3 linked regions of the Homo sapiens genome follow. The protein of the gene in region 1 interacts with the protein of each later gene in a biochemical or structural test. Each region holds a gene or a part of one and is shown on either strand. Other genes may lie near its edges.

Region 1 (7,138 bases):
GCTAGGTGTCACTACTTACTGGTCGGTCCCATGTGTCACTGAACCATTCAGGCCCTAGCCCCTTTCTCTTTCTTTTGGGAGATAACCAAATTCAACGGTTTACTACACTTAGAAAGAGTATTGTACCTATCTGTTCACAAACAGTAAGAACGGCTGAGTGGTGGAACGAGTCAGAGATCATTGGTCAACCTTGCTTCAGGAGGCCAGGGACTTTCCTGGTCATTAGACAATTCTGCTTTGAGAACACACAGAACTGGTCAACTTTTTCATCCCCAAAAGATAATTTATGCAAGTTATACCAAGATATTAGAATAGAGATGTTCTTTAATCTTTTTATTTTGCAATGCCATGAGAGTATTTTGCATGCCTATTCTGTCTCTGTCAGGGAAAGGAAGTGCCCAATTAAGAAAGAAACAATTGTAGCTGAATGCCATCACTGTTCCTCAATCGCCTTAGCATTAAAAGCTCGAACAGTTAGTAGATAATGTGACACTGAGCGAATTCTCCTCTGAGATTGTTCTTCACAAAGTGAAGATAGTAACTGGAATTTGGGGAGGTAAAAATGAGATATAAAATAGCATGCGCTTAGTAAGCTTCTGTTAGTACATTGTACCAATCAGGTTATTTTAAGGAACACTCAGCCAATTACAAAACATATGAAGCCACCAAAAAAGAAACAGCAACTACTACTTCTCTACACAATAGATATCTATGTAAAGGCTTTTAATCAAAGTGGCATAAACCCGTGGAAGTACTGCTCTTAACACAGACAATACTTATTTCCATGGAGTCACATCATTCCTGCTTTCAAGAGGACTGAAAGCAACAATATTCCATAGGACAAAGAGTTCTTGATAACACCACTACAACCCCCCCGAGATTTTACTACTCTTCTCCTCCTCTGGAAATAGAAACACACTGAAGCTGGGGCCGCACACAGGTAGAGCTAAGTGTGCACTCTGGTCTAATGCAAACACTGACAGAAGTTCAGGTGAGGTCCTTTTCCCCCTTGCTTGGGAATACTGATGCTGCTGATGAAGTGAATACCTCAGAAATCTATTACCTCACCTCTAACATCTTCTCAAGTGAAAAACAGGAACTTTTCACTCGATAAGAAATTCCAGTATACTGGTATCAGTTTCCCAATATCTACTTTATGGGAAGACACTTTAATAGTTCCTACATGTAGTTACCACCAGCAGTATCATTTTTGAAGGTAAAGAAGGTTACTCCAATGGATAGAAAAATCTGTCTTTTTTCCATGCATTAAAACTGGGGCCTTGACCAGCCCCGTTTTTGCAAATAAAGTTTTATTGGAACACAGTCTAACCTATTTATTTGTATTATCTATAACAGTTTTCATTCAGTAAAGTTCAGTAGTTGCAACTGACACAGCTGGCGGCTCACAAAGCCTAAAATATCTACTATCTGGCCCTTTAAGAAACCCAAGCCCTGCATTAAAATATTACAATGCTACAGTAAGTAACATTTCATTTGAAAGAAAACTAAATGAGAATACAAAAACACAAATGACATGCTTGCTCTGATTCAGGCACTTTCAAGATCATTGTTTATTTATTACTTCAGATAAAAAGATAGTATACATATTAGGGAATCCCTTAAAATTCAACTCTAGAGTTATACACCATCTAGTACTTTTGCAATGAATGTTAACAACAACAAAAAAAATCTCTAAACACCTGAAAGCCCCACTATTAACATGGACTATGGTAATAAAAAATTTTGACATTTAATTTGTTCAACATATAGTATTTACATTATGAAACCAATGGTGATGATACAATAAAGTGATAAAGAAATAGTAAAAATAAACTTTAAAAAGCAAAGGTTTATAGTCTGACAATGCTAATTATCCTAATTGTATATAAAAAATTAAAACATAGAGCTTTCTGTTACAAAATTCTTAATCCTCTGGGTTGTAATCATTACTTGCTACCAATTTACATGCAACATCTGCTAGGACTGACATTTGATTTTTTTCCCCAAGAATGTGTGAGTAGATAAATGACATTTCAGAGCAGATATTAATTTACTTGTGGACAGAAAAAGAAACTCAAGATTGGTACTGGTCACAAGCCTCTTCCCAATAGAAATTATAAAAACAGTAAGATAAAATTTAAAAAAAATCTAACAAGGGGATGCATAGGCAAAGAGTACCATAAATGGCACAGCTCAAAAAATCCCAGGACCAATCAGACACACATCTTTTCTCTCTCCTTCAGCGACAAGAGGTCGATTTTGCCATCAAATAACCATGATTGAAGCAAGCGAGGGGCACCAGGTGTACAACTGATTAGATCTTGCAAAATACTAAGATGGGAGCAGGGGTGGCCAGAAGAAGGGGTAATTTATATATAATTCAAACTATATACAGCATAAATGGAATGCAGCCCATCCCAAACTGGCTCTGTGAAACAATTGGACCTTTATAGTTAAAATTATAACAAGTGTAATAATACAATAGATTTACATGGGAAGCAAAATCCAAGGGACATTTTATATTAAGTATTTACTGTGCTGTTTCAATTTAAAAATAATTTTGCTAAGTATACATCTCAACTGAAGTCTATGTAAAAAATGTCCTAATAGATACAGATATTTACCTTTGGTGAGTTGAAGGCCTTTTTGTGACTTCTGTCTGAACTGTAGGCAGAATGCTAGATGTACATGCACATATGGAGAAACTCAAGCTGAGGTCATCCAAAAGCTGTGCGTATGAGGAGGCTGGAGGTACTTTGAAAGTCAAAGTAGACCAGAAACCCAAAACAGGTAACAGTGAGGATGGCAACAGGGAATGGAATGCCAATATGGCAGTAAAACTTTTTTTAAAAACAGAAAGAGGAAGGCCTCTCGTACCAGCAGAATCCTGTACACGTACAAAAAAGAAAAAGCCACCCACCATTTTGTAAAACAGAAGCCAATTATAGTGTGGGAAAGTACAAATTACAGAAAACCAGAAGTCAACAGAAGAAAAACTACTGGTTTACTTGAGAGAAAGGAGAATGGTTCACCCCGAGCAGAGTTACTTGGTGAACGCCGCCACCACCGCCCACAGAACCTCATTGGTGTTGGCCTTCAGACATTCCACTTCAGGGTCTAAGTCGAGAAGCTGCCGCACTCTCTTGGTAGCCAAATCATACTGCTCGTCCAGAAGAGGAGCAAAAGCATTCTCCAGGACGTCCGAGGCATGAGCCAGGTAAATGAGGGCCAGCAAGCGCCTGTCCATGCGGTGAGGGTCATTCACCCATTTGTCAAGAACGGCTTCCTGTACTTTCTTGATGAGGCGCTGCTTAATGTTGTTATTGGTGAGGGGATGTGTTGTCATGTCAAAAAGTAGGAAGTTCTGTTTCTCTGTTGTCAATACACCCTTTTCCACCAGGTTTTTAGCTAATCGTTCCCGTACATTTCTTAACTGATAATGCAATTTTAATGGATTCCATGTCTCACCTAAACAAAAGATTTCAGAAGTTAGAAATGATGAGTATTATCTGCTAATTTTGCAAAAATTTTGTACTATTAAACAGTAAAATCTGATTTTGCCCCAAGAAAAACAGAAGAAAATCTGCCATGTTTTTCTCCCTAACTAGACCATGAACCCCTTAAGCCTAGCCAGACCTTTGGATTCTAAGCACCCAGCACATCCTCAGCCACAGGAGTCACTCAGACGACTAAACTGCAAGCAGTCTTCAGACCAGAGTCAGTAACCCTTAGTCTTATGTGGAAATGAGCCAAATATTATGTTTGAGCTTCCTTCCAGCTGAAGTCAAAAAGCAGCCAATAGCCAAATAAGTTTTCTATTAAACACCAGTCTGCAACTAATAGACTAAAAAAAAAAGCTTCCTGATTAATATGTTATTCCTGAAACTGCTACACATATACAGCCTATAGAGGTAGGAAAGCCTGTTTAGGCCATGCTATTATTTGATAACAATATAAAGCTAATTCTGGAAGGATACAAATTTTCACAATTTTAACCTTGCCATCCATACATATTTCCTTTTGAGAGAGAAATATTTAAAATAAAACCAAACGATTTTTCACTAAAGTGGGTTCTTCTTTATAGAAAACTGGAAGGAAATACACCAAAATATTAATCTTACTTATCTTTGGGATTATGTGTGCTCAACTTTTTTTGTGCTTTCTGCATTTTCCAAATGATCTCCAATGAACATGCAACTATTTTTATACTTAAAAAAACTATATTTTTCTAAATTAGAATATGTTAAAGATCAACCACAGGCATCTTTTTTAAATGCAAACGTTGTAAGGTCGAGATTTTCTAATACTGAGAGAAAACCTTCAGCCACACTGTCCATTACAGGAGCCATTACCCACATAGAGCTATTTAAATTAATTTAAAAATTCATCTCTTCAGTGGCACTAGCCACATTTCACGTATACAATAGTGACGTATGGCCAGTGGCTACACCCCACAGGAACAGAACATTTTCATCATCAAAGAAAGTTCTAGCGGACTATCTTAAAATTTTAAGTTGCTGTCTTAAAATATATTACCATTCAACTGGACAGAGACACAATTATTTTCCTATACTTAATACTAAACAACATAGGCCTATGATGAAGTAATCATTCCTAAAGCTGCCCTCTCATTGTAATTAGAAATCTCCATAAAATATACGAAAAAACTGTTTTCAGACACTAGTCAAAAGCAGCCCAGAACTGTGACACTTGAGTGCAGCCTATGTGAGCCTGACAACTGCCTAAGCTTACCACCTAGAGGCACGTCCCAGGCAGCAGAGCAGGCAGGAAGAACCCAAGCAGAGCACAGCAGTCCCATCACGTTAAGGCAGCAGAGATCAGAGTTCAGGGTAGCTAAGGCAGCTGCAGTGTGCAAAGCAGACTACTGGAGAAGGGGGACCTACACAGATAAAGAGGTCTAGAAATCTGCAAGGTGTTCCTTGAGTCTTGGGCTGAAAGCTAAAGCTACATGTGTTAGGGTGAGAAATTCCACAAAGCTAGGCAAAGAACACCTACCAGAAAGTGAACAATTCTAAGAGTTCAGTAGAGCTGGGAAAAATGTGATTGCCAACTAGCCAGAGAGCAAAAGCCTCACTAAAAACCAGGACATTCAGAAGGAATACTAGAAAATTCACATCTTAGTAGTAGGGCTAAACCAGTCCTAGAGTATAGACCACCCTAGACATGCCCTAATAAAGATTAAAAGCGGCCAGGCGCGGTGGCTCAAACCTGTAATCCCAGCACTGTGGGTAGCCCAGACGGGTGGATCACCTGAGGTCAGGAGTTCGAGACTAGCCTGGCCAACATGGTGAAACCCCATCTCTTCTACAACTGCAAAAAATTAGCCGGGCATCGTGGCAGTTGCCTGTAATCTCAGCTACTCGGACGGCTGAGGCAGGAGAATCATTTAAACCGGGGGAGGGCAGAGGTTGCAGTGAGCCGAGATCGTGCCATTGCTCTCCAACCTAGGCAACAAGAGTGAAACTCCATCTCACAATTTAAAAACAAAAACAAAAAATTAAAAACAAGTTGATCCACAAGTAACTTAGCTGCCTACCAAGACAAAATTCAACACTCTTTAAAGAAAGACCATAAAATTCATCACTTAACATTCACACTGTCCAGCATCGAAGTTAAAAAAAAAAAAAAATCACTAAACTTGCAAAGCAGCAAAAAAGTGACCTAAAACTAGGGGTAAGGGGGGAGTCAACAGAAACAGTCCCAGCCTGGGCAACATGGTGAAATCCCGTCTCTACAAAAAATACAAAAGTTAGCCGGGGCCAGGCATGGCGGGTTACGCTTGTAATCCCAGCACTTTGGGAAGCCAAGATGGTGAAACCCTGTCTCTACTAAAAATACAAAAATTAGCCAGGCATGGTAGCAGGTGGCTGTAATCCCAGCTACTCGGGAGGCTGAGGCAGGAGAATCGCTTGAACCCGGGAGGCGGAGGTTGCAGTGAGCCGAGATTGCACCACTGCACTCTAGCCTGGGTGACAAGCACAAGACTGTCTCAAAAACAAAAACAAAAAAACCCCCAAAAAACAAAACCAAAAAAACCCTAGTGTCCTAGTGCAAGTCATCTTAATCTATTTCTCCATTTACTCATCTATAAAGTGAAAGTAACAAATTTATCAAGCTCATAGGGCTATTACGAGGATTAAATATCAAGTTCTTAGAACGAAGCCTAACACATGGTAAGCTCTCAGTAAATGTTAGCTATTATTTGCCCATGTGCAGAATAAACATTCTGGCAGAATTTATAGTATTTATAATGTTCTAAGAATCCTGTTAGGTACTGAGAATACAAACATTAGGATATACTTCTAACCCTGTAGGAATTTAAAATCAAGTGAAAATAACATTCATAATATATTACATATTAGAACTAACTATACTGGCCAGAAGAAAATGGGAATAGGGCCATAAGAACAAAATGAACAAAGTGCCTAGAGGAGTAAGAAATGACTCTGGTTTAATGTTATGGGGTATTTCATAGGAAAGTTATAGAAAAAAAGAATCTTCAAGCTAAATCTCGAAATCCAGCAGGATTCACCACATCCTACGAAAGGGAGAGAAGCCTGAATTCCAGGCAAAAGAAACAACAAAGTACATAGGCAGCAGAATAGAATAAGCCCTGGAGTAGAGGCACACATCTTTCAAAAGTGTGTAACTTCCACCCTTTTTTTTTTTTGAGACGGAGTCTCACTCTGTCGCCCAGGCTGGAGTGCGGTGGTGTGATCAGGGCTCACTGCAAGCTCCGCCTCCTGGGTTCACGTCATTCTCCTGCCTCACCCTCCCAAGTAGCTGGGACTACAGGCACCTGCCACCATGCCCAGCTAATTTTTTGTATTTTTAGTAGAGATGGGGTTTCACCGTGTTAGCCAGGATGGTCTCGATCTCCTGACATCGTGATCCACCCACCTGGGCCTCCCAAAATGCTGGGATTACAGGCATGAGCCACCGCACCCAGCCACTTCCATTTTTTTATAATTGTGTAAACCCAATGTCCCACCAATAAATAACTGCTGCATCTTTCACTAGTATGAGTTTTGCTTTTTCTAATGTCAATGGCAGGTGTTAGGCAGCCTAAGACACTAGGCTGGAATTGGGTAACTATTGTGTTAAACGACTTAGGGAA
Region 2 (8,016 bases), on another chromosome or scaffold:
CTGGGGGCAGGGCACAGACAAACAAAAAGACAGCAGTAACCTCTGCAGACTTAAGTGTCCCTGTCTGACAGCTTTGAAGAGAGCAGTGGTTCTCCCAGCACGCAGCTGGAGATCTGAGAACGGGCAGACTGCCTCCTCAAGTGGGTCCCTGACCCCTGACCCCCGAGCAGCCTAACTGGGAGGCACCCCCCAGCAGGGGCACACTGACACCTCACACGGCAGTGTATTCCAACAGACCTGCAGCTGAGGGTCCTGTCTGTTAGAAGGAAAACTAACAACCAGAAAGGACATCTACACCGAAAACCCATCTGTACATCACCATCATCAAAGACCAAAAGTAGATAAAACCACAAAGATGGGGAAAAAACAGAACAGAAAAACTGGAAACTCTAAAACGCAGAGCGCCTCTCCTCCTCCAAAGGAACGCAGTTCCTCACCAGCAACAGAACAAAGCTGGATGGAGAATGATTTTGACGAGCTGAGAGAAGAAGGCTTCAGACGATCAAATTACTCTGAGCTACGGGAGGACATTCAAACCAAAGGCAAAGAAGTTGAAAACTTTGAAAAAAATTTAGAAGAATGTATAACTAGAATAACCAATACAGAGAAGTGCTTAAAGGAGCTGATGGAGCTGAAAACCAAGGCTCGAGAACTACGTGAAGAATGCAGAAGCCTCAGGAGCCGATGCGATCAACTGGAAGAAAGGGTATCAGCAATGGAAGATGAAATGAATGAAATGAAGCGAGAAGGGAAGTTTAGAGAAAAAAGAATAAAAAGAAATGAGCAAAGCCTCCAAGAAATATGGGACTATGTGAAAAGACCAAATCTACGTCTGATTGGTGTACCTGAAAGTGATGTGGAGAATGGAACCAAGTTGGAAAACACTCTGCAGGATATTATCCAGGAGAACTTCCCCAATCTAGCAAGGCAGGCCAACGTTCAGATTCAGGAAATACAGAGAACGCCACAAAGATACTCCTCGAGAAGAGCAACTCCAAGACACATAATTGTCAGATTCACCAAAGTTGAAATGAAGGAAAAAATGTTAAGGGCAGCCAGAGAGAAAGGTCGGGTTACCCTCAAAGGAAAGCCCATCAGACTAACAGCGGATCTCTCGGCAGAAACCCTACAAGCCAGAAGAGAGTGGGGGCCAATATTCAACATTCTTAAAGAAAAGAATTTTCAACCCAGAATTTCATATCCAGCCAAACTAAGCTTCATAAGTGAAGGAGAAATAAAATACTTTATAGACAAGCAAATGCTGAGAGATTTTGTCACCACCAGGCCTGCCCTAAAAGAGCTCCTGAAGGAAGCGCTAAACATGGAAAGGAACAACCGGTACCAGCCGCTGCAAAATCATGCCAAAATGTAAAGACCATCGAGACTAGGAAGAAACTGCATCAACTAATGAGCAAAATCACCAGCTAACATCATAATGACAGGATCAAATTCACACATAACAATATTAACTTTAAATATAAATGGACTAAATTCTGCAATTAAAAGACACAGACTGGCAAGGTGGATAAAGAGTCAAGACCCATCAGTGTGCTGTATTCAGGAAACCCATCTCACGTGCAGAGACACACATAGGCTCAAAATAAAAGGATGGAGGAAGATCTACCAAGCAAATGGAAAACAAAAAAAGGCAGGGGTTGCAATCCTAGTCTCTGATAAAACAGACTTTAAACCAACAAAGATCAAAAGAGACAAAGAAGGCCATTACATAATGGTAAAGGGATCAATTCAACAAGAGGAGCTAACTATCCTAAATATTTATGCACCCAATACAGGAGCACCCAGATTCATAAAGCAAGTCCTCAGTGACCTACAAAGAGACTTAGACTCCCACACATTAATAATGGAAGACTTTAACACCCCACTGTCAATATTAGACAGATCAACGAGACAGAAAGTCAACAAGGATACCCAGGAATTGAACTCAGCTCTGCACCAAGCAGACCTAATAGACATCTACAGAACTCTCCACCCCAAATCAACAGAATATACATTTTTTTCAGCACCACACCACACCTATTCCAAAATTGACCACATAGTTGGAAGTAAAGCTCTCCTCAGCAAATGTAAAAGAACAGAAATTATAACAAACTGTCTCTCAGACCACAGTGCAATCAAACTAGAACTCAGGATTAAGAATCTCACTCAAAGCCGCTCAACTACATGGAAACTGAACAACCTGCTCCTGAATGACTACTGGGTACATAACGAAATGAAGGCAGAAATAAAGATGTTCTTTGAAACCAACGAGAACAAAGACACCACATACCAGAATCTCTGGGACGCATTCAAAGCAGTGTGTAGAGGGAAATTTATAGCACTAAATGCCTACAAGAGAAAGCAGGAAAGATCCAAAATTGACACCCTAACATCACAATTAAAAGAACTAGAAAAGCAAGAGCAAACACATTCAAAAGCTAGCAGAAGGCAAGAAATAACTAAAATCAGAGCAGAACTGAAGGAAATAGAGACACAAAAAACCCTTCAAAAAATCAATGAATCCAGGAGCTGGTTTTTTGAAAGGATCAACAAAATTGATAGACCGCTAGCAAGACTAATAAAGAAAAAAAGAGAGAAGAATCAAATAGACACAATAAAAAATGATAAAGGGGATATCACCACCGATCCCACAGAAATACAAACTACCATCAGAGAATACTACAAACACCTCTACGCAAATAAACTAGAAAATCTAGAAGAAATGGATACATTCCTCGACACATACACTCTCCCAAGACTAAACCAGGAAGAAGTTGAATCTCTGAATAGACCAATAACAGGCTCTGAAATTGTGGCAATAATCAATAGTTTACCAACCAAAAAGAGTCCAGGACCAGATGGATTCACAGCCGAATTCTACCAGAGGTACAAGGAGGAACTGGTACCATTCCTTCTGAAACTATTCCAATCAATAGAAAAAGAGGGAATCCTCCCTAACTCATTTTATGAGGCCAGCATCATTCTGATACCAAAGCCAGGCAGAGACACAACCAAAAAAGAGAATTTTAGACCAATATCCTTGATGAACATTGATGCAAAAATCCTCAATAAAATACTGGCAAACTGAATCCAGCAGCACATCAAAAAGCTTATCCACCATGATCAGGTGGGCTTCATCCCTGGGATGCAAGGCTGGTTCAATATACACAAATCAATAAATGTAATCCAGCATATAAACAGAGCCAAAGACAAAAACCACATGATTATCTCAATAGATGCAGAAAAGGCCTTTGACAAAATTCAACAACCCTTCATGCTAAAAACTCTCAATAAATTAGGTATTGATGGGACGTATCTCAAAATAATAAGAGCTATCTATGACAAACCCACAGCCAATATCATACTGAATGGGCAAAAACTGGAAGCATTCCCTTTGAAAACTGGCACAAGACAGGGATGCCCTCTCTCACTGCTCCTATTCAACATAGTGTTGGAAGTTCTGGCCAGGGCAATCAGGCAGGAGAAGGAAATAAAGGGTATTCAATTAGGAAAAGAGGAAGTCAAATTGTCCCTGTTTGCAGACGACATGATTGTTTATCTAGAAAACCCCATCGTCTCAGCCCAAAATCTCCTTAAGCTGATAAGCAACTTCAGCAAAGTCTCAGGATACAAAATCAATGTACAAAAATCACAAGCATTCTTATACACCAACAACAGACAAACAGAGAGCCAAATCATGGGTGAACTCCCATTCACAATTGCTTCAAAGAGAATAAAATACCTAGGAATCCAACTTACAAGGGATGTGAAGGACCTCTTCAAGGAGAACTACAAACCACTGCTCAAGGAAATAAAAGAGGACACAAACAAATGGAAGAACATTCCATGCTCATGGGTAGGAAGAATCAATATCGTGAAAATGGCCATACTGCCCAAGGTAATTTACAGATTCAATGCCATCCCCATCAAGCTACCAATGACTTTCTTCACAGAATTGGAAAAAACTACTTTAAAGTTCATATGGAACCAAAAAAGAGCCCGCATTGCCAAGTCAATCCTAAGCCAAAAGAACAAAGCTGGAGGCATCACACTACCTGACTTCAAACTATACTACAAGGCTACAGTAACCAAAACAGCATGGTACTGGTACCAAAACAGAGATATAGATCAATGGAACAGAACAGAGCCCTCAGAAATAATGCCGCATATCTACAACTATCTGATCTTTGACAAACCTGAGAAAAACAAGCAATGGGGAAAGGATTCCCTATTTAATAAATGGTGCTGGGAAAACTGGCTAGCCATATGTAGAAAGCTGAAACTGGATCCCTTCCTTACACCTTATACAAAAATCAATTCAAGATGGATTAAAGATTTAAACGTTAAACCTAAAACCATAAAAACCCTAGAAGAAAACCTAGGCATTACCATTCAGGACATAGGCGTGGGCAAGGACTTCATGTCCAAAACACCAAAAGCAATGGCAACAAAAGACAAAATTGACAAATGGGATCTAATTAAACTAAAGAGCTTCTGCACAGCAAAAGAAACTACCATCAGAGTGAACAGGCAACCTACAACATGGGAGAAAATTTTCGCATCCTACTCATCTGACAAAGGGCTAATATCCAGAATCTACAATGAACTCAAACAAATTTACAAGAAAAAAACAAACAACCCCATCAAAAAGTGGGCGAAGGACATGAACAGACACTTCTCAAAAGAAGACATTTATGCAGCCAAAAAACCATGAAGAAATGCTCATCATCACTGGCCATCAGAGAAATGCAAATCAAAACCACTATGAGATATCATCTCACACCAGGTAGAATGGCAATCATTAAAAAGTCAGGAAACAACAGGTGCTGGAGAGGATGCGGAGAAATAGGAACACTTTTACACTGTTGGTGGGACTGTAAACTAGTTCAACCATTGTGGAAGTCAGTGTGGCGATTCCTCAGGGATCTAGAACTAGAAATACCATTTGACCCAGCCATCCCATTACTGGGTATATACCCAAATGAGTATAAATCATGCTGCTATAAAGACACATGCACACGTATGTTTATTGCGGCACTATTCACAATAGCAAAGACTTGGAACCAACCCAAATGTCCAACAATGATAGACTGGATTAAGAAAATGTGGCACATATACACCATGGAATACTATGCAGCCATAAAAAATGATGAGTTCATATCCTTTGTAGGGACATGGATGAAACTGGAAACCATCATTCTCAGTAAACTATTGCAAGAACAAAAAACCAAACACCGCATATTCTCACTCATAGGTGGGAATTGAACAATGAGATCACATGGACACAGGAAGGGGAATATCACACTCTGGGGACTGTGGTGGGGTTGGGGGAGGGGGGAGGGATAGTATTGGGAGATATACCTAATGCTAGATGACACATTAGTGGGTGCAGCGCACCAGCATGGCACATGTATACATATGTAACTAACCTGCACAATGTGCACATGTACCCTAAAACTTAGAGTATAATAAAAAAAATAAAATAAAATAAAATAAAAATAAATGAAAAAAAAAAAAAATATATTTTTCTGATCATTAAATAGCAAGAAATAAAATAAGAAAAAAACGTATTCAGATCCCAAATTCAAAATCTAGTTTTCTCAGTTGCTTTAAAAAATCTCACTTACCCTTCGAGTGTTTTCAATAATTTTGGGATCAGGTTTTCCGTAGTTAGGTGGGTTGGCATATGGGTCATATCCAAGCTTGGCAAGCATAGGAGCAATCACTGCCATGTCTTGTAAAACATCTGGCGGTATCTTCCCAACCCATTTTGATAGAGCTCCTACATTGACTGGCTTGATTACTTGGTCTGTAGATCTCTCCACTCTGAAAACAACATAATATGAATAAATATTTATTTAAAATTTTTTAGAAAATCATGCTTTAAAACCACTATAAATTATGTTTTAATGACTAACAGTTGTCTGGATTACAAAACAATTGAGAAAGAGGGCACTAATCAGGTTTGACACTATTTACCAGAATTAAAAAATAATTTAAGATTGACAGGGATTATTGGCAATCTCAGATTTCTAGAAATTGGGAAAAGGGTTAGCTGAAACATGTGCATTATTAAATGTCTTGACACTGTAATTACAACATCCAGGAAAAAAACAGTAACAAAATAAAGATACAGCTGCTTAGAAAAATTGTCAGTCAACTTACTTGAAATGCTTACCAAAAAAAAGACAGACTGATGGATGGAAAGAGGGACAAATAGATGGTCAGAGAGATGGACAGTGATAAAGTAAATACAGCAACATGTTAATGGCACAATCTAGCTGGTGGGTATAAGTCTTTCAATTCTTCTGTACATTTTAACTTTTCGTAACAAAATGTTGGGGGAAAACTGCCAACCATAAACCACTAAGAACGTAAAATATTCACTTGTTCTATTTTCCTGCTGCCTTCCTTAAAAATCTTATTTTCTACAGAAGAAAAAAAAGGGCTGTTTTTGATTTTCAATATTACAGGATTCAATATTACAGAATAAATGTGTTCTACCTCTTGACATGGAAATTTACTCTAAGCCTGTAGTGATTATACTCACTATATTTGACTAAATAACTAGCAACCTCAGGATAAAATGTAGCATCAAATGACATTTGGATTTAAGCTGGATCTGAATTAGATTTTGGCCAAATGACTATAAAACAGAAATGCTTAAAAGAGACTTTTATATCGTAATACATAAAAAGTTATTCAAACATAGTATTCTAAGAAAAGGTAAAGGCCCTTTTAATTAAGAATATAACCTCTTAGTGAATAATCATTATCTGATGAGGAGTCTCCTAAAGGGGATCTGCTTCCAAAATAATAGAAAAACAATGCCTCTTCCCTGGGCTTCTGTGGGGCTACCTGCTCCAGGTTTCCCTCCTACCTCAGGAGCCACATTCCTTTCTCCCTTTTCAAATATTTCTCCAGGACTCCACTTAACCCACTGCTCCCTTCACTCTATCTATTCTCCCTGTATTGCTTCATCCCTAATGTTCTTTGCTTGACATTCTTAAACTGTGTAAAGAACATCCTCGTTTGCCCAGGACAGGTCCAGTTTACACCTAGCATAATTTACCTCAGCGTAATTATTAAAAGCACCTGCCATTCACTCCCATCAGTGTTCAGGAATGAGCAGAGGATGTTATATATGTATTGCATAAACTGTATTACTTTTCTAAAATCCAAAAAATTCTGAATTCTGAAACACATCTGTGTTAAGTATTGGGGTCACACATAGAGTCTTGTATGTCATGACTGGGAAGCTGGGCTTACCTTGAAGATAATAAGGAATAAGTGAAGAGTTTTAATAACAACTGATATGAACAAAGTATTATTATTAGCATTCAGTGCTGATAACTATGGGAAGAATAATTGGAGAATGAGGCAAGTGGGGTCAGGAAAATCAGAACAGATGCTCAACATGTTGGAAGAAAAGAAATGATTAAGGCTTCAATTAGATTAAATGAATTAGAAATAGAGATGAGACAAATTCCAAAGATAATTTTTAAAACTGCTAAGACACTGGGAGACCAAAGTGGGTGGATTATTTGAGGTCAGGAGTTCGAGACCATCCTGGCCAACATGGCGAAATCCCATCTCTACTAAAAATACAAAAATTAGCCAGGTGTGGTGGTGCATGTCTGTAATCCCAGCTACTTGGGAGGCTGAGGCAGGAGAATTGCTTGAACCCAGGAGATGGAGGTTGCGGTGAACCGAGATCACACCACTGCACTCCAGACTAGGCAACAGGGTAAGACTCCATCTTTAAAAAAAAAAAAAAAAAAAAAAGCTAAGACAGTGGCCAATTAGATAAGGCGGGGTGAAGAAAAAGAGAAAGGAGTCTATGATTAATTAATATTTGACTTGAAGGACAGATGTTTGTCTGTCATTCAATAATATAGACAGTATGAAGAAAAAGCATGTGGGTTTTTGATATTGTTGCTTTGTTTTGTTTGACATGTAGAGAACAATAAAAAAAATGTAAATTAATAGTAATCAGAAGGTCACCAAAAATCTAGAGAA
Region 3 (8,016 bases), on another chromosome or scaffold:
CATTCTTCTCTCTGGTCTCAAAGGAAAGTCTCTTGTTGTAATTAATACTCTTGATTCCATTCTTTCATCCATTGGACTTTTTGTTGTTGTCGTTGTTGTTGTTGTTGTTGTTTTTTGAGACGGAGTTTTGTTTTTGTTGCCCAGGCAGGAGTGCAATGGCGTGATCTCAGCTCACTGCAACCTCCGCCCCCCCGGGGTTCAAGCAATTCTCCTGCTTCAGCCTCCTGAGTAGCTGGGATTACAGGCATGCACCACCACGCCTGGCTAATTTTGTATTTTTAGTAGAGAAGGGGTTTCTCAATGTTGGTCAGGCTGGTCTTGAACTACCAACCTCAGGTGATCCGCCCGCCTCAGCCTCCCAAAGTGCTGGGATTACAGGTGTGAGCCACCATGCCCAGCCTCTTTTTTTTTTTTTTTTTTTAAAGAGACAGGGTCTCATTGTGTTGCCCAGGCTGGAGTGCAGTAGCTGTTACACAGGCATGATGCACTATAGCATTGAAATCCTGAGCTCAAGTGATCCTCCTGCTTCAGCCTCTGAGTAGCTGGGACTGCAGGTGTGCACCACCTTGCCCAGCTCTACTGAACTGTCTCTTTCAGTTTGTTTCACTTTTTACCTTCAACAGTATGTGGGTGTCCCCTGTTCTCAGTAAAGGAAAAAAAATCTGTATATTCCTTTCTCCCAACCAACCCATTTGTTTTTTCACTTTCATTGCTAAAGTCAAATTATTGATGGTCTACAAATGTTCCATCTACCTATTTTTTCATAACCATCCTAATCTTAAAATGTCTGCCATCTTTCTTTCCTCCCCTTTTTTGAAACTATTCTCTTGAAGGTCACAAATGGCAGTCTTCCTAGTCAAAACCAAAGAATATTTTTATTCTTACTGTATTTGACCTCCCAGTAGTTTGATCCTGTTGATTGTCTCTAGCTATTTGGAAACTATTTTCTTTCTTGCTTCTGTTATACTGGACTCTCCAGTCTTATCTTCTTCACTATATTCTTTGCTGGATTTATTTTTTCTTTCCAGTCACCTAGTAAGGGACTCTGTTATTGAGCCTTTGCTCTCCCATAAGAGCAGTATTCCCCAAAGTAGTGTTAAACAGAATACCCTTCTTGTAATATTTCTTAGGTGGTGAGGAGAAAAAAATGAAAACCTTTTTTGGAGGGAAATGTTAGTGTATCCTCCTCTTGGAATTCATAATGCCTGCTGGAATATAAAAGCTCTGAGAAATCCATTAATAAAGAAGGCTATTCAATTTTGTTTAACTCAGTCTTGTTTAGTTTATTTGATCACAGGTTACTATTTTCATGGCCTACCTATTATGGCACAGAATAATATAGCAAAGCCCACTAGTTTGGGAAATATTGCCCTGGGTATCTTAACTACTTTTAAGTGTTTGGCTAATATTTTATGCAGCTGGCTCACAAGACTGTATCTCTTATTGAATGTCAGTTCTGTGTGTGTATATGTGTATACATACATATATATATATATATATTTTTTTTTTTTTTTAGACAGAGTCTCGCTCGGTTAAGCAGGCTGGAGTACAGTGGTGTGATCTCGGCTCACTGCAAGCTCCGCCTCCTGGGTTCACGCCATTCTCTGCTTCAGCCTCCTGAGTAGCTGGGACTACAGGCGCCCACCTCCATGCCCGGCTAATTTTTTGTATTTTTAGTAGAGATGGGGTTTCACCATGTTAGCCAAGATGGTCTCGATCTCCTGACCTCGTGATCCACCAGCCTTGGCCTCCCAAAGTGCTGAGATTACAGGCGTGAGCCACCGCACCCGGCTAGTTCTGTATATTTTTAAAAGTTTTTTCTTTTTTTAGTTTTGTAGAGATAGGGTGTTGCTATGTTGCCCAGGCTGCTTTCAAACTCCTGGCTCCAAGTGATCTTGCCTTGGGCTCACAAAGTGCTGGGATTCTAGGTGTGTGCCACAGCACTTGGTGTGCCACTTCTGTATTTTGAGCTGGCTATAACAACTTTCTTGGGCTGCTTGTGAATGTCTGTTCTTGGGGTTAATGAGGACTCTCTGAGCTGCTTAGTAGAAAGGGTAGTCTTGGTCTCTGTATTTTAAACTTAACAGTTTTTCAGGGTTTTTTTTATTGTTATTGTTGTTTGTTTGTTTTGAGACAGGGTCTTGCTCTGTCACCCAGGCTGGAGAGCAGTGGTGCGATCATAGTTTACTACAGCCTCAAACTCCTGGGCTCAAGCGATCCTCCCACCTCGGCCTCCCAAGTAGCTGGGACTATAGGTGCATGCCACCATGATGGTCTAATTTTTTATTTTTTGGTAGAGATGAGGGTCTTATTATCTTGTCCAGGCTGGTCTCCAGTTCCTGGCCTGAAGTGATCCTCCTGCCTTGGCCTTCTAAAGTGCTGGGTGTGAGCCACCATACTTGGCCACTTAACAGTTTTAGATCTGGAAAATTATTGGAAAATTAGATCTGGAAAACTAAACAAGTGATCCTCCTGCCTTGGCCTTCTAAAGTGCCAGGTGTGAGCTACCATACCTGGCCACTTAACAGTTTTAGATCTGGAAAATTATTGCAAAGATAGTACAGGGAGTTTTTATATACCCCACACCCAGTCTTCCCTATTATTAACATCTTAACATAAGTATGATGCATTTGTCACAATTAATGAACCAGTATTGATATCTTATTATGAAAGTCCGTACTTTATTCAGATTTCTTCAGTTTTCGCCTGCTGTCCTTTTTTAATTCCAGGATCTCATCCAGAGTTACGTTACATTTAGACATTATGTCTTCTGAAGCTTCTTTTCAGCCTTTCCTTGTTTTTTAGACCTTTTCTTGTTTTTGATAATCTTGACAATTTTAAGGATTACTGATTAGGTGTTTTATATAGAATGTCCCTCAATTGGGAATTGTCTGAGTCTTTTCTCAGGATTAGACTGGAGTTGTGGGTTTTCGGACAAAGACCACAGAAGTAAAGTACCAATCTCAACACATCATAACATGGGTATGTTTTTCAAAATGATTTATCACTACTTATGTTAACCTCTATCACCTGGCGTGAGATAGTGCTTGTCAGGTTTCTCCACTATAATGTACTCTTAAAAAAAATCTGTTTCCATACTGTACACTTTGGAAGAAAGTATGTTCACCCTCACTTAATGAGTGGGTAGTTATGTTTTTCCTCCTTAAGGACAGAGTATCAACATAAACTATATGGAATTCTTCTGCAAAGGAGATTTGTCTCTTCTCCCTCATTTATTAACTTAATAATTTACTTGTATCGGTATGGACTCATGGATATTTATTTTGTACTTTGGCTTATAATCCAATATTAGTTTATTTTTTTGTTGCTCAAATTGTTCTGGCTCTGGCTGTTGGAGAGCTCCTTCATTAACTCCTGTATCCCCTTCTTACTTTTATAGTGCCAGAAAGTACAGAGAATTTCCACATACCCTACACCCAGTTTCATTGTGACATACCCCTTTCTTACTTTTTGGTACTTTTAGATGCTCTAGGCCTATCTATACGTTTCCTACTCCAGCCCTAGAGTCAACCATTTCTCCAAGGAACCTTGGTTCCTTTTATTGGAGAATGGCATTAGAAACCAAGGTCTGCAGCTGGGCACGGTGGCTCACGCCTGTAGTCCCAACACTTTGGGAGGCTGAGGCTAGTGGATTTCTTGAGGTCAGGAGTTCAAGACCACCCTGACTAACATGGTGAAACCCCATCTCTACTTAAAAATACAAAAATTGGGCCAGACACGGTGGCTCACGCCTGTAATCCCAGCACTTTGGGAGGCCGAGGTGGGCAGATCACAAGGTCAGGAGTTCGAGACCAGCCTGGCTAGCATGGTGAAACTCCGTCTCTACTAAAAATACAAAAAATTAGTCGGGTATGGTGGTGCGCACCTGTAGTCCCAGCTACTTGGGAGGCTGAGGCAGGAGAATTGCTTGAACCCGGCAGGCAGAGGTTGCAGTGAGCTGAGATCACGCCATTGCACTCCAGCCTGGAGGACAGCGAGACTCCATCTCAAAAAAAAAAAAAAAAACACCACCACCACAAAAAAAAACAAAAATTAACCGGGCATGGTGGGGGGCGCCTGTAATCCCAGCTACTTGGGAGGAGTATCGTTTGAACTGGGAAGCAGAGGTTGCAGTGAGCCAAGATTGTGCCACTGCACTCCAGCCTGGGCAACAGAGTAAGACTCTGTCTCACAAAAAAAAAAAAAGAAACCAAGGTCTGCTTGGCAGATATGCTCGTTGCTACTATAAGGTTATCTTTGGAAATCAAGGAATCCTTTCTCCAGAGGAATCAGAAAGGTGATATTTGGTTTCTTTCACATTATTATGCCATTCTGTCACTTCCAGTCTGTTACCTGGGTTACTAAACACATAAATTCCTTTTTTTTTTTTTTTCTGAGATGGAGCCTCACTCTGTCACCCAGGCTGGAGCGCAGTGGCGCAGTCTCAGCTCACTTCAACCTCCACCCGCCGGGCTGAAGTGATTCTCCTGCCTCATCCTCCTGAGTAGCTGAGACTACAGGTGCATGCCACCATGCCTGGCTAATTTTTGATTTTTTAGTAGAGACAGGGTTTCACCATGTTGGCCAGGCTGGTCTTTAACTCCTGACCTCAAGTGATCTGCCCACCTTGGCCTCCCAAAGTGCTGGATTACAGGCATGACCCACCACATCCGGCCTTGAACATGGAAATTCTTTAAGGGAGCTTTAAGTTGCTCCTGTCTTGTCCAAAGAAGTGAGAAACAACCCCCACTTCTCTGAGATTCCCTCAAACTTTCTGATTTTTTAAACTTCCCTCTAAAGGGTTTCAGCCTGGAGGGGTGTATTAGTTTGCTAGGGCTGCCATAACAAAATGCCACAGACTAGGTGGCTTAAACAGCAGAAATTTATTTTCTCACATTTTTGAAGGTTGGAAGTCTAAGACCAAGGTGCCAGCAGGGTTGTTTTTCTCTGAACTTCTCTCCTTGGCTTGCAGATGGCAACCTTCTTGCTGCTTTATTGTGACATGATAGTCCCTCTGTATGCACACATCCTTGGTGTCTTTTCCTCTTCTTAAAAGGATACGAGTCATATTGGATTAGACCCACTGTAACTTAAGCACTTTAAAGACCTTGTCTCCAAATACAGTTACATTCTGAGATCCTGGAGGCTGGGACTTCAACATGTGAATTTGGGGGAAACACAGTTCATCTTAGAACAAGGGAGATCCACCACACATACACACACACACACACACACACACACACACAGACACCCTTTTATTTCCTCTTTTATCAGAAAAGTCCTTATTTCTCTTTCCTCAGTACAGGGCATGTCTCTTAACTTTGATTATTATTCTCTCTCTCTTTGTCTTTTAAAGAGATGGGGTCTTACTACATTGCCCAGGCTAGAATGCAGTAGCTATTCATAGGTGTGATCATAGCACACCACAGCCAGGAACTCCTGGTCTCAAGTGAAGGTCCTCCTGTTTAAGCCTTCTGAGTAGCTGAAACTACAGGTGTGCACCACTGTGCTTGGCTCCTAAACTTGGATTCTTGCAAACTGTAGCTCATACTAAAGCTATGTGGTCCAGCTGTGGCACGTCAAGCTCTTGATAAATAAAAGGAGCTGTTAGAATGTAGAAAAAGTCCTCAAAATTGTCGTTTTATTACACACATACACACACATACACACACATCAGTTTTGAGGTTTGAAGCTGAATAGTAAATGACCTTTTTTCCCTTTAACAACCATAATTTTCCTTGAGGCAGCCTATGCCTTTAGTTGAATGGGGAAAAGGTCATATGTCAGAAAGGAGGATGAGAAGCGTATTACAAAAAAATGCTTTTTGGGGGAAAATTTTGGAATATAATAGTAGTCTCTCTTATTCTTGAGAGGTTTGAGTAAATTGATTAAAATTCTTAAAACAGTGCCTACTACATTGTTATTCTACAGCTACTTCCTTATTTCTTTTCTGCCTTTTTTCCAGGATGGGACTCTGTCTGTGTTCCTGCCCAAGATCTGGTCCCAGCCCTAGCCTACCTGCCTCACCCTTTGCTCCTGAATGTCTGACTGTTTTTGTTATTTGCTTGTTTTCAGTTTCCTGGTTCATTTCCAGTTAGGCTTAGTTGGCTCCTCCCATAGGTGTCTTAGCTGACTCCCTAGAGCTTGCCTGTTCTTCTGTAATTTGAGTATCAACCTTCTACAGTTCTAATATGCTGCACATGATAATTCCTGCCTTTGCCTCTGCCTCACCAGCCATAATCTGGCCAACTTTTAACTGTAATTTCTACCTCAAATTATTCATAAACCAATCAAAACTGATAACTCTTCCAAACGATATCCCTTTCCTACCTTCTTGGTTCCTATAAATGATGCCCATGCAACTGTTATTTAAGACTGAGGTTAGAAATTTGGTGTTGTCTTTGATTCCTTCAGTGTATCATATTGAGTGCTTCAACATGCAGAGGAGTTACTTGATCGAATTAAAAAAAACGTCATTCTGACTGCAGAATAGAGAACTTGGCAGATCCCTAACTAGTCCCCTTTCCTTGGTCTCCATTTCTTTTTGTCAGTTCTCCTGTGAAGCCAGCCTGAACTTCCTCAAACCTTATTTTCAGAGTGGCTGTATGACTCACTGACTACATCAGGTTAGAATTCTGCTGTCTCATCTTTAAGGTCTTCCATAGAATGGCTCTAGCTACCTTTGTCTCCCACTATCTCCTGACCCAAATTGTATTTCAGGCTGATTGTTTTGCTTACTTTTGCCTTCCCACCTGCCTTTCTGTGTCATGTTAATTCCTGTTTCTGTGCCTTTGTTCCTGCTGTTTGACTCTTAGTTTCTTGCCTCTTTTCTGTATATTTATTATACCAATTTTTTTTTGTTTTTTTTTTTTTAATTGAGGCAGAGTCTTGCTCTGTCGCCCAGGCTGGAGTGCAGTGGTGTGATCTTGGCTCACTGCAAGCTCCGCCTCCCGGGTTCACACCATTCTCCTGCCTCAGCCTCCTGAGTAGCTAGGACTACAGGCACCCGCCACCAGGCCCAGCTAAATTTTTTGTATTTTGAGTAGAGAAGGGGTTTCACCATGTTAGTCAGGATGGTCTCCATCTTGATCTCCTGACCTCATGATCCACCCGCCTTGGCCTCCCAAAGTGTTGGGATTACAGGTGTGAGCCACCGCACCTGGCCTTTTTTTTTTTTTTTTTTGAGATGGAGTCTTGCTCTGTTGCCCAGGCTGCAGTACAGTGACGCAATCTTGGCTCATTGCAACCTCCGCCTCCCGGGTTTAAGCGACTCTCCTGCCTCAGCCTCCTGAGTAGCTGGGATTACAGGCACGCACCACCAGGCCTGGCTAAATTTTTTTGTATTTTTAATAGAGATGGGGTTTCACCATGTTGGCCAAGCTGGTCTCGAACTCCTGACCTTGTGAACCGTCCACCTTGACCTCCCAAAGTGCTGGGATTACAGGCATGAGCCACCACACCTGGCCTATTCTACCAATCTTTTATCCAGCTTCTGATCCATGTCCACTATGAAGCCCCCTGGGACTTCTGACCTGGAATATGCTTTTCCTTCTTTTCTTTTTCTTTTTTTTTTTTTTTGAGATGGAGTTTTGCTCTTGTCGCCCAGGTTGGAGTGCAATGGCGCGATCTCAGCTTACTGCAACCTCCGCCTCCCAGGTTCAAGTGATTCTCTAGCCTCAGCCTCCCAAGTAGCTGGGATTATAGGCACCCACCACCATGGCCGGCTAATTTTTTTTTTTTTTTTTGTATTTTTAGTAAAGATGGGGTTTTACCACATTGGCCAGGCTGGTCTCGAACTCCTAACCTCAGGTGATCCACCCACCTGGGCCTCCCAAAGTGCTGGGATTACAGGTGTGAGCCACTGCTCCCAGCCATGCTTTTCCTTCTTTATACACCATTTACATTTATTGTTTGAGCTTCATTAACTTATTTTGTTCATTTTTTACTAATAGCTTATTGTTTGTGAACTTCGTTTTCTCAACGAAATTTTAAGTTCCTTGAGGAAGGACTATGTTT

What was found.
Region 2: the proteins of GOLPH3 (region 1) and TPST1 form a complex in vitro, tested with the Homo sapiens proteins (one study listed by BioGRID).
Region 3: the proteins of GOLPH3 (region 1) and GOLM2 form a complex in vitro, tested with the Homo sapiens proteins (one study listed by BioGRID).

Annotation. Positions count from the first base shown.
Region 1 is NC_000005.10:32,123,169-32,130,306, forward strand, and holds the end of GOLPH3 (Golgi phosphoprotein 3), read right to left. Parts: intron 3,469-7,138; coding exon 3,044-3,468; 3' UTR 1,548-3,043; downstream 1-1,547. UniProt on the Homo sapiens protein: Phosphatidylinositol-4-phosphate-binding protein that links Golgi membranes to the cytoskeleton and may participate in the tensile force required for vesicle budding from the Golgi.
Region 2 is NC_000007.14:66,284,318-66,292,333, reverse strand, and holds part of TPST1 (protein-tyrosine sulfotransferase 1), read right to left. Parts: intron 5,824-8,016; coding exon 5,625-5,823; intron 1-5,624. UniProt on the Homo sapiens protein: Catalyzes the O-sulfation of tyrosine residues within acidic motifs of polypeptides, using 3'-phosphoadenylyl sulfate (PAPS) as cosubstrate.
Region 3 is NC_000015.10:44,290,703-44,298,718, forward strand, and holds part of GOLM2 (protein GOLM2), read left to right. Parts: intron 1-8,016.